4 linked regions of the Homo sapiens genome follow. The protein of the gene in region 3 interacts with the protein of the main gene of each other region in a pairwise test. Each region holds a gene or a part of one and is shown on either strand. Other genes may lie near its edges.

The links.
Region 1: the proteins of ARHGAP25 (region 3) and VDAC2 interact in binary tests that used the Homo sapiens proteins (3 or more experiments, as listed by UniProt).
Region 2: the proteins of ARHGAP25 (region 3) and CCT6A interact in binary tests that used the Homo sapiens proteins (3 or more experiments, as listed by UniProt).
Region 4: the proteins of ARHGAP25 (region 3) and MAGEB6 interact in binary tests that used the Homo sapiens proteins (3 or more experiments, as listed by UniProt).

Annotation. Positions count from the first base shown.
Region 1 is NC_000010.11:75,209,473-75,213,595, forward strand, and holds the start of VDAC2 (non-selective voltage-gated ion channel VDAC2), read left to right. Parts: upstream 1-1,323; 5' UTR 1,324-1,466; intron 1,467-1,661; 5' UTR 1,662-1,686; coding exon 1,687-1,717; intron 1,718-2,009; exon of another isoform or gene 2,010-2,111; coding exon of another isoform or gene 2,112-2,187; intron 2,188-2,757; coding exon 2,758-2,826; intron 2,827-4,123. UniProt on the Homo sapiens protein: Non-selective voltage-gated ion channel that mediates the transport of anions and cations through the mitochondrion outer membrane and plasma membrane.
Region 2 is NC_000007.14:56,061,765-56,064,489, reverse strand, and holds the end of CCT6A (T-complex protein 1 subunit zeta), read right to left. Parts: coding exon 2,641-2,725; intron 1,808-2,640; coding exon 1,735-1,807; intron 1,478-1,734; coding exon 1,405-1,477; 3' UTR 501-1,404; downstream 1-500. Other genes in the region: SUMF2 (inactive C-alpha-formylglycine-generating enzyme 2 isoform i precursor), read right to left, coding at 112-178. UniProt on the Homo sapiens protein: Component of the chaperonin-containing T-complex (TRiC), a molecular chaperone complex that assists the folding of actin, tubulin and other proteins upon ATP hydrolysis.
Region 3 is NC_000002.12:68,824,572-68,827,333, forward strand, and holds the end of ARHGAP25 (rho GTPase-activating protein 25), read left to right. Parts: intron 1-1,415; coding exon 1,416-1,623; 3' UTR 1,624-2,262; downstream 2,263-2,762. UniProt on the Homo sapiens protein: GTPase activator for the Rho-type GTPases by converting them to an inactive GDP-bound state.
Region 4 is NC_000023.11:26,190,959-26,195,239, forward strand, and holds the start of MAGEB6 (melanoma-associated antigen B6), read left to right. Parts: upstream 1-1,481; 5' UTR 1,482-1,569; intron 1,570-2,827; 5' UTR 2,828-2,888; coding exon 2,889-4,112; 3' UTR 4,113-4,281.

The DNA.
Region 1 (4,123 bases), on a different chromosome or scaffold from region 3:
AGCTTACTACAGCCTCAACCTCCCAGGCTCAAGCGATCCTCCCTCCTCAGCCTCCCAATTAGCTGGGACTACAGGCGCCAGCCACCACGCCCGGCTATTTTTTTTTTTTTTTTTTTTTTTTTTGGTAGAGGCAGGGTATTACTATGCCTAGGCTGGTCCGGAACTCCTGAGCTCAGGCGATCCGCCCACCTCGGCATCCAAAAGTGCTGGTATTACAGGTGTGAGCCACCGCGCCCAGCCTGTTTGGGGATCTGGCTAGCATCTGTTTCTCTCCTGATTTCTTGGAAGGTCAGATAAAGATCCTAGCTTTGGCGTGGTAGTGTGAAACTTCAGCATGAGTAACCCCATTTTGGTTTGGTCTGATGGGCCTAATGCAGGAGGTCAGTCTAAACTAACGGTCTCCCATATACATTTTATCTAATAGCTCTGTCACCCTTCCTGCACACCCGGGGAACTCGGGTGCGGCATTCTAACGCCTGCTCAGCATGATTCCACATTTTCTCCAGGCCCATAATCCAGAGGAGGTTGGGCCCGGAGCAGGCTTGCCTCGCCAAGCTCCGGCTCCGTGCGTGTGTGAAGCAGTGCCATGCCTGAGTGGGGAGGAGCCGCGGAAGAGAAAGCGTAAGGCGGCGTGGAAATGGGTGGGGCACGCTAGGACCCGCTCACATTTGTTCAGGGAGAGGCAGTCCCAAAAAGCCTCTCAGGCACACAACCCAGCACAGCAAGGCAGTCACACCAAGGTGGGAAAAGAGGGCAGAAGAGCGCGAGGGGCTGGAGGTGGCGCCCCTGTGTCCCACTCGTTCTCCCTGGGCTGGGAAAGAGAAGCGGTCCCTCAGAAGCGCAGGCTGCGCTAGCTTAGGATGGACGTGGGTAACGCTCAGCTGACTCCCCGCAGGCACCCTATGCAGGGCTTTGTTTCGGGGGGGAACCCGCACCAGCGCGTAAGGGGAGTAGGAGAGATCTACGTGACCCTGGTGCGCAGCCGCGCCCTATCGCCCCGGCCACGCGCCGACGCCCCGCCCCGTCCGTGACGCGTTCGCGCGGGGCCTCCGCCCCATCCCCCTCCCAGGCGGTCCCCAGCGCGCTGCCTCCGCCGTTCCCCGCCCCCTCGCCTCTGAGGCTGCCCGGATAGCTGCCTGATCCAAGGCCCAGCAGCTTCTGCCTTCCGGATCCCCACCGACGGACGGAGGCAGCCCACCTGCAGGACCGGGGCGCTGTCGGTCCACGTGGCCGCTCTGGAGCAGGTTGGAGTTGGCAGCGGGCTGCGCTGCAGGGACAGGCGCGGCGGACAGCCCCGGGGGCAGCGGCGGGGTCCTGTCTGGGAGAGGACAGGGTTGCGGCGGGCGGAACGGTGTCTCCTTCACTTCGCCCTCCAGCTGCTGGAGCTGCAGCCCGACCGCGAGCGTGCCAAGCGGCTTCAGCAGCTAGCGGAGCGGTGGCGGCGGCCCCCCTCAGGACACCACCAGGTACCGCCGCGCCCGCCTCACGCCGACCCAGGGGCCTAGGCCGCGGCGGCCAAGCCGGAGGCCCGCGCCGGACTCGGAGTCGGCCCTGGCTTCCTAAGATGGCCGCGCTGCCCCGCGGCCCCTCGCCCCTCTCTGCCCGGGATCTCCCTTTGGCCCTTTGACCCCAGCTTACCGCACTTCTTGTCCCTCCCGCAGATTCCCCTCTTCCCGCGGCCTCGCCATGGCGACCCACGGACAGACTTGCGCGCGTCGTAAGTAAAGCTGGGATCTCTGCGGGATGGGGCGGCGGAGAGTCGAAGCCTGTCGACCAGAAACCCAGTTTGTTTCCCCCTATCTTTCCAAGAACTTGGAAATTCGGCTGCTTTTGGTGGTCGCCCCACCGTCTGACCACCTCCTCTGCGGAGGAGGGGCTGGGCTGCTGGATTTCAAATGGGGAACAAGGCCCGGGGAGTTGGTCTGTGGCCGCATGGACTTTTCAGCCTTTGTACATGTCTTTGACGTATAGAAGTAAAAAGTTGTTAATTGGGGATTCTGCCTTTGGAGGATCGGATCAATCACTTTTCTAGAGGAAGTAGCAGTCCCTCTTGTGAGAGCGCAAGGTCATTACTTGTGCTCCTAAGGGCGTGGACGTGCTTTGTGGAATGAATGAGCTGGTGTAATGAGCTCAGATTGCCTGCCCTTAAGCAGCACAGCATTGGCCGAGGACTTGAGAGTCACATTAGTAAGTTTGAAGCGCTATTTGATATTTAGTTGATGTAGACATTTGAGTGAAACACACATGGCAGTATTTTTTCCAAGTTTCAATATTTAAATTCCCAGTATTAAATTCTCTTCCCACTCCAGGGTGTTGGTTTTCCCCTCAGCGAAGATATTAAAGGACGTATCAGGGTAAAGGGCCTAGTCTTAGGTTTCGGTTTTATCTAATTTAGTTAAATCAGCTCATCTCAGTGAATTTTGGCAGATACATAAATATCCATACACACAAATACTTGTTTGATTCTTTGTACTTGTCCAGTCCTAGGAAGTGAGGCTGTAGGTAATAGACTGTTTTTCCGTTTTGAAACGAATTCCCCAAGTTTGTATAATCATGGTTATCTGTTTTAGAAATAATTCGTTGGTGGTATCTCCTTTATGGGTCGTTATAGTTCTATTGTAGCTCCTGACCGCATAAAAAACATTCCAACAAATGGGATTGCTTGAATTTTAATATCAGCAGTGGGTCATGCTCTTGTTCTTGGATAGAAGGTGGGAGAATAGAGACATTAACACTGGAATGTTTTTTTTCTACCAGCAATGTGTATTCCTCCATCATATGCTGACCTTGGCAAAGCTGCCAGAGATATTTTCAACAAAGGATTTGGTAAGAACCTTATTTTTAAAACGTTTTAGATAAAGAGTGAAAATGTATGTTTGGGTTGCTTAGCGAAATCAGATCAATCATTGCAAATTGTAAATATCTTGCTGCTTTAAATTTAGAGTTACTTATTTTTTTGAGACAGGGTCTCCCTCTGTTGCCCAGGCTGGATGCAGTGGCATGATTATACCTCACTGCAGCCTGGACCTCCTGGGCTCAAGCGATCATCTTTCCTCAGCCTCCCACGTCCCAAGTAGCTGGGACTACAGGCACGCTCTGCCACACCTGGCTAATTTTTTTTATTTTTCGTAGAGGTGGGGTCTCACTGTGTTACCCAGTAAACACAGTGGCCTCTCAAAGCCTGGTTGGATTACGTTACAGACATGAGCCACTGTGCCCAGCCTTGTATTAATTCTTCTATTAGAAACTTAAGATACTTAGATTAAACTTATGTGAAAATAGTTCTTTTACAGTCTACATCCCCCTCCCCCAATTTCCCAAAATTTTTAAAAACTGTACTTAGAAGATTTGAGCCTTTAAGAAAAACGGCTCGTGCTTTAATTTTTTTTCAGTTATAGCTTAGGCCCTGGTTGACTAGAGTTACGATATATTACTGTTTTGCTTTTGTGGTGACTCCTAATACTTTATCTAGAGTTATGAGCTTTTTCAGGTGAATTTGAGTTTTCTTGAAAATTTTGTTCCATACCCTCCTCCCCTTTATTTAGACTGTTGGAAATACCCCATTGGCATAAATGTCCTAAATGTCTGTATTATGATAAGTTGGTTTTGTTTTTGTTTTTTTTTGAGACGGAATCTCGCTCTGTTGCCCAGGCTGGAGTACAGGGGCGTGATCTCGGCTCCCTGCAGCCTCTGCCTCCTGGGTTCCAGCAATTCTCCTGCCTCAGCCTCTCTGGTAACTGGGATTACAGGCACATGCCACCATGCCCAGCTTTTTTTTTGTATTTTTAGTAGAGACGAGGTTTCACCATGTTGGCCAGGCTGGTTTTGAACTCCTGATCTCAAGTGGTCTGCCTGCCTCGACTACCCGAAGTGCTAGGATTTCAGGCGTGGGCCACCGCACCTGGCCATATCATGATAAGTTATTAGCTATTCTGAAATTTCAGTTGAATGATTTTTTAATCTGATATTTAAGTTTAAGAATAGTTTGGGGGCTGGGCGTGGTGGCTCACACCTGTAATCCCAGCACTTTGGGAGGCCGAGGCGGGCAGATCACGAGGTCAGGAGATCGAGACCATCCTAGCTAACACGGTGAAACCCCATCTCTACTAAAAATACAAAAAAT
Region 2 (2,725 bases), on a different chromosome or scaffold from region 3:
GCTGCAGCCGCATCCCGGAAGCCGGCAGAAGGGCCTAAGGCTCTCTCCCGTCAGGGCGGAGCGCCCCATCCCCTTCCCAGCGCCCCCAGGATGGACGGCCGGTTCACTGACCTAGCTTGAGCCACGCGCCGACCAGGAGCGACAGCAGGGGCAGCAGCGGTAACCCATGCCGGGCCATCAGGACTGCCGCGCTGCGCCGCGTACACCCACGGCCCCGCTGCGCATGCGCCCTCATGCACCGCAGCGGCAGTCGACCCCTATGCACATGCGCAGGCTGCGCCACCACCCGCCCCGCACCCAATAGTTCAGCAGGGGGAAACTGACGGAGCGAGGCGGAGGACTGGCCACACCACCTTCAGGACCGCCCAGGGAATTAAGGAAAACCACGTTGAGGGTCCCGGCCGTTCCAGAGGCCCCTTCACTACTTTTCTGAACCTTTGGACAGTTTTCATTCCCCTTAAGATTGCTTTTGTGCGTCATACCATTGCAAGAACAGAAAGGAGGTTTCAACTTAACATTTATTGCACAACTCACTTCAGGCCACTGCTGACATCCCAAAACACAGCCTAGTAACACACAACTTCACCTTCAAGGACTGCAGAGATAGACCAACTATATATAAATAATCTCGTGGAAACGTAATTTGGGTGAGAAAAATATGACGCTAGAGACTTTGCGATGAATATTTTGCCTAAGTTCAGAAGCTTGAAAATACAGTTGGCCTACAATCTCAAATTTCACCCAATAACCGTGGCCCTTAGTCACCACACCTTCCATCATCTTTTTACCTCTGCCTGTTCTTGCCCTTTACAGTTGCAGCTCTCTCAACTCCCTTGCCTCTAGTTGACTCCTCTTCCCATTTCCTACAACTTTGTGGCGGGAGCATTTTAGCAAAGCCATTTCAAAGGCGTTCAAAGTCCAACTGATCCAATGCATTTACTCAGAAATTTATACCAACAGGGATGCTTTCAATATTTTAAATTACTTGAGCATTTATATTAGCATAAAAATTTTAAAACCAAATGCTTAACAATAGGGTAGTTGGATAATTTAACATACGTCCACATAAAATTAAACCATTAAAATTTGCTTTTCAAGAAATATTTAATAACAAGGTAAGTAACATATGCTTATCTAACATGGAATTTTATGTCACTGCTGCTAAAGCAAAACATCCTGTTCACTGGATAAAAGACCTGCTTTATGTGTATACACTTCAGTGCAATTTTTAAAAATACTATAATTTCAGAACTTCCAAATTTCAACAGATGCCAGTGTTCTCTCCTTTTTTCATATGGGAAAATTTCTTTCAAAATTATTTGAAGCTTGGACAAAAATTCCACAGCTGTAATCCTCAGGATCACTTTGCAGTCTTCAAGATTCAGATACAGAGGAAGCTTCAATTCAACCTTTCAGAGAAGACATTCCAGCTCGCATGATCTCATCAACCAAGAGAATGTTGGTGGCAATCACAGTGCTGAAAGGGGGACAAAAATAAGATGGCTCAGATGATTAGGAGCCCTAATTCGACTCAACTTCCCACTTCCAACCAAGCTGCACACATTACATCCAATTAAATTTCCCCCTTCCCCTCTACACATCAGAGGGCTAGTTCAGTTTCCATACTTCCAGCTGATCACATTATTCATGGGGGAAAGGAGCAACTAAACAGAGAACACCAAATGAAAAAAGTATGATTCTCTAACAGTTTAGTTTTCATTTTCCCAAACTTACCAGGAGTGAAGAAGCTGTTTCTTTACACAATAGTTATCCCATACGCCTACTTCTGCTGCCACCATTGGCTCACCTAAAAGGCAACCAAATCTTAAAATAAGTTCAGTCAGTAAGAACCAACAATATTGTGTGCAGCTTTGCTTATCACTGATGACTCATTTCCTCCAGTATTAACTATGAGAATTCAAAGCTTCTCTGTTAGCCCAATTTTCTACTCTAAACCATGACCCCCGTCCACAATATTTGATGAATGTCTGACTTATACTTAGAAGTCCTGAACACCCCTCTCTTCTTCTGGATACATTTCTGTTTACTCATACTGAAGTATAGCACTTCAACTATAATCTGACTAAAATGGACTGATCATTTCCCTCATTCCAGAAACCTTTTCTATTAATGTTGACAATAGGTCTTGCACATACTGCATGGAGGTACCTGTTATCTCCTACTTTGTACTTAATTTGTGTTGTTTTGTTACAGGAACCTAAGATCAGGGCTGTCACCATTTCACTAGATTTCTACATCCCCTTTTCTGGCATTAATTGCTATCTTTAGCTGGTTTTCACCCATGAATATAATCACCACATCTATTTTCTTATCATAGTACTTGATTAAAAACTGAGTAAGGCAAATGCAATATGAAAATCCTTCAACATTAATCTGAACCATCTACCACCACTCAACATCTCCAAAATTGTATCCCCAAATTACTCATGTCTACTCGTCCCTTAATTATACCTAGTCATTCCATTTTTTATTAATATCCTATTTTATCCCATTTTAGAACCCAGAGTTCCCTAACAGCACTGGTGTCAAATTGCAAAGCAAAACATTTTTAATCTTTCCTGGCTTCAACTCACACGTATTACATCTAGTTTTCCCTCTACAACAGTTGCATTCTCTTACCTGTGTTCAGGTCCACACCCACAAGCTGACCTGATTCTGAATGTTCTGCTTGAATTTTAACTAATGTTTCCTGAAGGTCAAAACC
Region 3 (2,762 bases):
CTCTCCTAAAAATATAAAACATTAGCCAGGCATGATGGTGGGTGCCTGTAGTCCCAGCTACTCAGGAGGCTGAGGCAGGAGAATGGTGTGAACCTGGGAGGCGGAGCTTGCAGTGAGCCGAGATCATGCCACTGCACTCCAGCCTGGGCAACAGAGCGAGACTCCGTCTCAAAAAAAACAAAAGGAAAAAAAAAAGATGGAATGAGATCAATTTAGCTTTAAGAAGAGATAGGTGGGGGTAAGCAAAGTTCTGAAGATGGATTGTTACCCACAGAATAGGCCAAGGCCCTTGAAGATAGAACCCAAGTTTTGGGCTCACATGGGAGCTCAAGTCTCCCTTGTGCAAATGGGCAGGCCATTTGGGGAGAAGGGAGGCACACTCTACAGAATGAAATTCTGAAACAAATTTCCAGTCACACAATCGGCATGTGTACACTCATTCCTAAGGGTTAATTCAGCACAGCCTGGCAGGGGGCCACCTGGCACTACATTAGGATTTGGGCCAGTAACGATTAAAATCCTAGCAATTCAGGAATCCCACAGATTTTTCACCTGGCATGGGATTCAGAAGTGAGGGTGAGACTGCCAGGACCACAGCTCCCCAAAGGGCAGTTCCCTCTGTTTCTCCAAATCTTGGTCCCCAGGAGATCCTTAATAAGAAAGGGTGCTGATCTATGCTCTCCATTGACACAGGATGAGGAGGCACTCATGAGCACAGAGGTGTGAGAAATTTGAAATATGGATGGGGCTTCCAGGACTGATACAAGGTGCTGTGGGAGTGAATATATAGATCTGTTAGAACTGGTCCCTCCTTTCAAAGACTTTGTTATCCGGTTGAAGATACAAAACATTAAACGACATGAGAAAAAACACAATAGATGTCACAAGATGGTGTTAAATGACAAATGAGGGGGCTGGGTGTGGTGGTTCATGCCTGTAATCTCAGCACTTTGGGAGGCCAAGGCAGGCGGATCACGAGGTCAGGAGATCAAGACCATCCTGGCTAACATGGTGAAACCCTGTCTCTACTAAAAATACAAAAAAAAAGAAAAAATTAGCTGGGTATGGTGGCGGGCATCTGCAGTCCCAGCTACTAGGGAGGCTGAGGAAGGAGAATGGTGTGAACCTGGGAGGCGGAGCTTGCAGTGAGCCGAGATCGCGTCACTGCACTCCATCCAGCCTGGGCAACAGAGCGAGACTCCATCCAAAAAAAAATGACAAATGAGGGGCTCAGAAGTACTGTGGGGATTCAGGTTTTCTGGGACATCTTCATGTGGGAAGAGGGACATAGCTGAGAGGTTGGATAAGGGTCTTGTGATTTGAAAGGAAAATGAGCAGCAGGTTGTGAGCAAGGGGGAAGGAAGAGTCTAGAATGAATGCCACATTCTTTCATTCTTTTCTTTCCTTCCTTGTAGCCTTGAGAAGGAAAATTATGACGTTTGGGCTAAAGTGGTGAGGCTCAATGAAGAACTGGAGAAGGAAAAGAAGAAGTCTGCAGCCCTAGAGATCAGCCTCCGCAACATGGAGCGCTCCCGGGAGGATGTTGAGAAGAGGAACAAGGCCTTGGAAGAAGAAGTCAAGGAATTTGTCAAATCCATGAAGGAACCCAAGACCGAGGCTTAAGGGTCCCAGGAGTACTGCAGGGACAGCCCCAGAGAGGCCCAACTCTGGCCCCTTTCTCAGTGCTATCTGATGACGGGGAAACAAAATTATTCTCTGAGAGGGAAAGGACATTTGAGGGAAACATCAAATTTCCCCATAAATAAATGAATGGAGTTTGCAGGAAGGTGAGGGTGAGCAGAGATGTGTGTGGACATCTCTGACCATCCATCGCTGTATTCAAATGGATTGTTTTATTCCATTCTGGTCTCAGGCATGACCACGTCCAGTGAAGACATTTGAGGCAGCACATCTCAGGACCCAGGCAATAGACTGGCCCCAACTCAGGCTGGACTAAGGTGTGATTAATTCTTTGTTTTTTGTGTGGAACAGCTCACCTTGTCAGACAGCCTCAGGGCATCTCTGAGACACAGGGGCAGAAAATGACATTCATCTTTTGAGTCCTCATCCATGGAGTGCTGTGTTTGGGGGGCTGCATCTGCTGAAGCGAGAACCCCATTCTGCCACCCCACCAGGATGCCCATTCTCCAGGACTTCTCCAACTTACTATTAGACTAAACCAGAACAAGCAACAAACTGTATTTATGCAAGCAAAATTGATGAGAAAATTATATTCAAATAAAGCAAAAATTAAAAAAAAAAGGCTATTGCTAATCCATACGGCACCTTTGTGAGAATTAGCAAAAGACACTCCTTCCTTGGGGCAGGTGGCTTGCTGAGCAGGGCATGGGCTGAATTTCAGTCCTGACTTGCCTTTCAGGGACAGGTGTTTCTATACTTGCGGAGCCCCCATTTCTTCTGTATTTCACACAATTGCTGTGGGAATTACATGAGAAGAGGTAATCTAGTCCCTACTTGCTTTTTAATTGTGTATGGAGGGCCTGGGAACAAACGCTTCCTACTATGATAGGATTTGTTGTGGTTTTAGACAGTAATTTTCATGATAATAGTTTCTTTTTTCCTGTTTCACCAAAATGCAAGTGATTTTACCCTTAAAGGGACAACAGGCACTAGATGATAGGTGGGAGAGGGGCTTTCCCAGTGGACAGCTGATTCTTCCCCTTCTATGTCAAGCCAGCTTGGCAGAGGCCCTGGTCAGGCCCCGGACCTCTAGGTAGGTTGGTTGAGTCTTTTTTTGTTGT
Region 4 (4,281 bases), on a different chromosome or scaffold from region 3:
TAAAAATTTACTGAAAGACTTAGGAAAAATAAATCTCCAATAAAGCAGTGTACTATGTTTATTTACTGTGGAGGAGATATTGTAAAGTTATTGATTCTCCTTAAATTTTTTACAGATTCATTGCCTTAGCCATAGCTGTGAAGATGACAACCAAACCCGGGTGGTTCTTTCCCATGACCAAACTCAACCATAGAAAAGTTAAAGGAAGAATTTTTTTTTAAAAAAAAAGCAGTATTAACAACAGCAAAACAACAAAAATGCGAACCTTGAGAGATGGTCAGTTTGTATTGAACAAGAATGGGTGTGTGGGCAGGTAGGGGCATGAGCTGAAGTAGAGACAGGTCTGTGGCCTACAACAGACGCAGATAACGGAATTGGCTAGAGGAAAAGCTTTAAAACTTTGGTCTTTGCTTCTTTCACTGTGCCATTGGACAATGCATTTTTTTTTCTGCTTCACTAAAGGAAATTCAGTCAGAAACTTGGACCCTATGTGCCAGTTCCATGGGGTAATATTGCCACAGCAAAAACATCTGGGTAGGCTGAAGAAGTATGAATCCAGACACTGTGCTAATAACTACCTGAAACTTCTTTAGTGGAAGTGGACTGGCCTTTAAATTCGTATTATTTTAATATAATATAAAGAATGGACTAAATTAGGATAGCAAATATTGCAGTGAGTCACACAAGATAATGGTAGAAATTCATTCATGAAGGTGTTGAATACAGACACTGATGTCAGCCAAGAGAGAAGTCCCAGACATAGCTATCAGGCTAAGAAGTCTTCTCACTTTCTCCTTATGAATTTTACAGGATCTAGTCAGAGGAAGGGGATGAATTTACATCAGAAAATGGAGAAAACTGAGACCCTGCCAGCAGTCAATGTGAGGACCCTGAGTGAGGACTGAGGGGCTCCACATATCAGAAGAGACAAGAGTGCCCCCCAAATCTCCCTTCATTCCCCGATCTTGCATCACAACTTAATAGCAGCAGCCAGGTTTAGGAGGCCCCAGGCAGTAGTGGCCAGGTGAGGTGTAACTGAATTGCACATGAGGAGTCTCAGGAAGTTGAAGTCTAGTCTGAGAGGGTGTCCTCAAGTCAGTAGAGGGGACATGGCAAGAATGAAGCGACGACACTGAGTGAGGGCTGAGGGCAAAGTCCATTCCAAAAAGGGGGTCTCACAGAGCTCCACCCCTACTGTCAGTCTTGGAAGGTCCCGGCATGGCTCCCGAGCTCAGGCTGCACCTTACTTCCAACTCTGGACTCTCAGGGAATGAGAGCCTCTATCTCCGGTTGACTGATTCAGCTCAACAGATAGAGAAGTCCAAGGGTCCGCGAAGAGCCCCTGAAAGAACTTTACGTGAGTTCCCTGGAATCTGCTGCACCCACAGAACACAAGGGGGAGTAACAGAGCCCTGCAGCTACTGTTACGCAGGGAGCGCCAGGTGGGCGTGGCCGGAAGTGGTTCCTCTTGACTTCCACCTAATAAAGGGGTCTGAGCCGGTCGCCTGAGCCTGAAAAGTGCTGTCACGTCAGCGGAAGGAGGCGTCCCAGATCTTCTCAGCTGTCTTGGTGGGTATCCTGACCTAGAACGGGGGGCATTCCCCGACAACTTCAACCCCCTTCCCCCGAAGAAAGGCGGCTCCACAGAGCCCTGCCCCAACCTGCCCCGACCTGGTCCCTGAGGAGTCCCCAAACATGGCTGTTAGGCCCAAAGTCCATTCATTTTTTTCCGTCGTGTTGAAGAACATGAAGGCCTCGGTCCAAGGCTTGTGGACCCAGGTCAGTAGAGGGAGAAATCTCAGGCCCTACATAGTTAAGAGGACCCTCCTTAGAATTGAGGGAGGGGATTCCATGTCCCGTAACGGGTTGCACCGAACTCTGCCCTTGACGTTAGCCTGGGGGTCCGGGCAGGTCTCTAGAGACTGAGGTGCATTCTCACTTTGTCCCTGTGAGAGTCAGAGAGGTAGGCCCCTGGTTGTAAGGAGATGGCAGCAGGTCAGTGAGGGTGATTTCCAGGTTGTGGGAAGAGTCAGGGTGAGGAGTCTAATTACTGTGAGGAGCATTCTCACTATAACTGGAAGAGCACTCAAATGCCTCCGCTGTTGTCAGCCCTAGGTGGTCTGGGTGTCCCCGGAATGAAGTGTTGGGCAGAAGTGCTTCCTTATTTCCTCCGGGTTAAAATTCCTACTGTCAATTTCAGAGTGGCACAAGGAAATGGGCCTCTGGGTCTTGTCAACAATTTTTTTTTTATTATACTTTAAGTTTTAGGGTACATGTGCACAATGTGCAGGTTTGTTACATATGTATACATGTGCCATGCTGGTGTGCTGCACCCATTAACTCGTCATTTAGCACTAGGTATATCTCCTAATGCTATCCCTCCCCCCTCCCCCCACCCCACAACAGTCCTCGGAGTGTGATGTTCCCCTTCCTGTGTCCATGTGTTCTCACTGTTAACTTCCCACCTATGAGTGAGAACATGCGGTGTTTGGTTTTTTGTCCTTGCGATAGTTTGCTGAGAATGATGGTTTCCAGTTTTAATGATGATCCTGAATGTAAACAGAGAGGATCCAACCCCTGAACAGAGGGGCCCCCACTGCCAGCCCCTGCTGTCACCTCAGTAAGCCCCAAAATGGGCTGTCATGCTATAGTCTAATACTCTAACTTCCTCCTGAGTTTGAAGGAGACAAACTGACCAGGAGAAAAGGAGTCCTGTGGGTTCCTAGAGCAGCTGTTCTGCGGAAACCTGCAGAAGGGGCCCTAGTTAAAGCCAAGATGGTCGCTCTCTGCTGAAGATATTGACGTGACGTCACTCTCTCCCATCCAGGTGCCAGCCTTCCTAGTCTTCCTACCCACACTCCTACCTGCTGTCACAGGCCACAGCCATCATGCCTCGGGGTCACAAGAGTAAGCTCCGTACCTGTGAGAAACGCCAAGAGACCAATGGTCAGCCACAGGGTCTCACGGGTCCCCAGGCCACTGCAGAGAAGCAGGAAGAGTCCCACTCTTCCTCATCCTCTTCTCGCGCTTGTCTGGGTGATTGTCGTAGGTCTTCTGATGCCTCCATTCCTCAGGAGTCTCAGGGAGTGTCACCCACTGGGTCTCCTGATGCAGTTGTTTCATATTCAAAATCCGATGTGGCTGCCAACGGCCAAGATGAGAAAAGTCCAAGCACCTCCCGTGATGCCTCCGTTCCTCAGGAGTCTCAGGGAGCTTCACCCACTGGCTCTCCTGATGCAGGTGTTTCAGGCTCAAAATATGATGTGGCTGCCAACGGCCAAGATGAGAAAAGTCCAAGCACTTCCCATGATGTCTCCGTTCCTCAGGAGTCTCAGGGAGCTTCACCCACTGGCTCGCCTGATGCAGGTGTTTCAGGCTCAAAATATGATGTGGCTGCCGAGGGTGAAGATGAGGAAAGTGTAAGCGCCTCACAGAAAGCCATCATTTTTAAGCGCTTAAGCAAAGATGCTGTAAAGAAGAAGGCGTGCACGTTGGCGCAATTCCTGCAGAAGAAGTTTGAGAAGAAAGAGTCCATTTTGAAGGCAGACATGCTGAAGTGTGTCCGCAGAGAGTACAAGCCCTACTTCCCTCAGATCCTCAACAGAACCTCCCAACATTTGGTGGTGGCCTTTGGCGTTGAATTGAAAGAAATGGATTCCAGCGGCGAGTCCTACACCCTTGTCAGCAAGCTAGGCCTCCCCAGTGAAGGAATTCTGAGTGGTGATAATGCGCTGCCGAAGTCGGGTCTCCTGATGTCGCTCCTGGTTGTGATCTTCATGAACGGCAACTGTGCCACTGAAGAGGAGGTCTGGGAGTTCCTGGGTCTGTTGGGGATATATGATGGGATCCTGCATTCAATCTATGGGGATGCTCGGAAGATCATTACTGAAGATTTGGTGCAAGATAAGTACGTGGTTTACCGGCAGGTGTGCAACAGTGATCCTCCATGCTATGAGTTCCTGTGGGGTCCACGAGCCTATGCTGAAACCACCAAGATGAGAGTCCTGCGTGTTTTGGCCGACAGCAGTAACACCAGTCCCGGTTTATACCCACATCTGTATGAAGACGCTTTGATAGATGAGGTAGAGAGAGCATTGAGACTGAGAGCTTAAGGCAGGGCTGGCACTATTTCCTTGGCCAGGGTACCTTATGGGGCCATATCCTACAGATCCTCCCATTTCTAGGGAGGTCTGAAGTAGAATTTTCACTTTATGTTAGAAGAGAGTAGTGAGCTTTCTAAGTAGTGCAGTATAGTAGAGGCTGGAGGGAACAAGATATGTA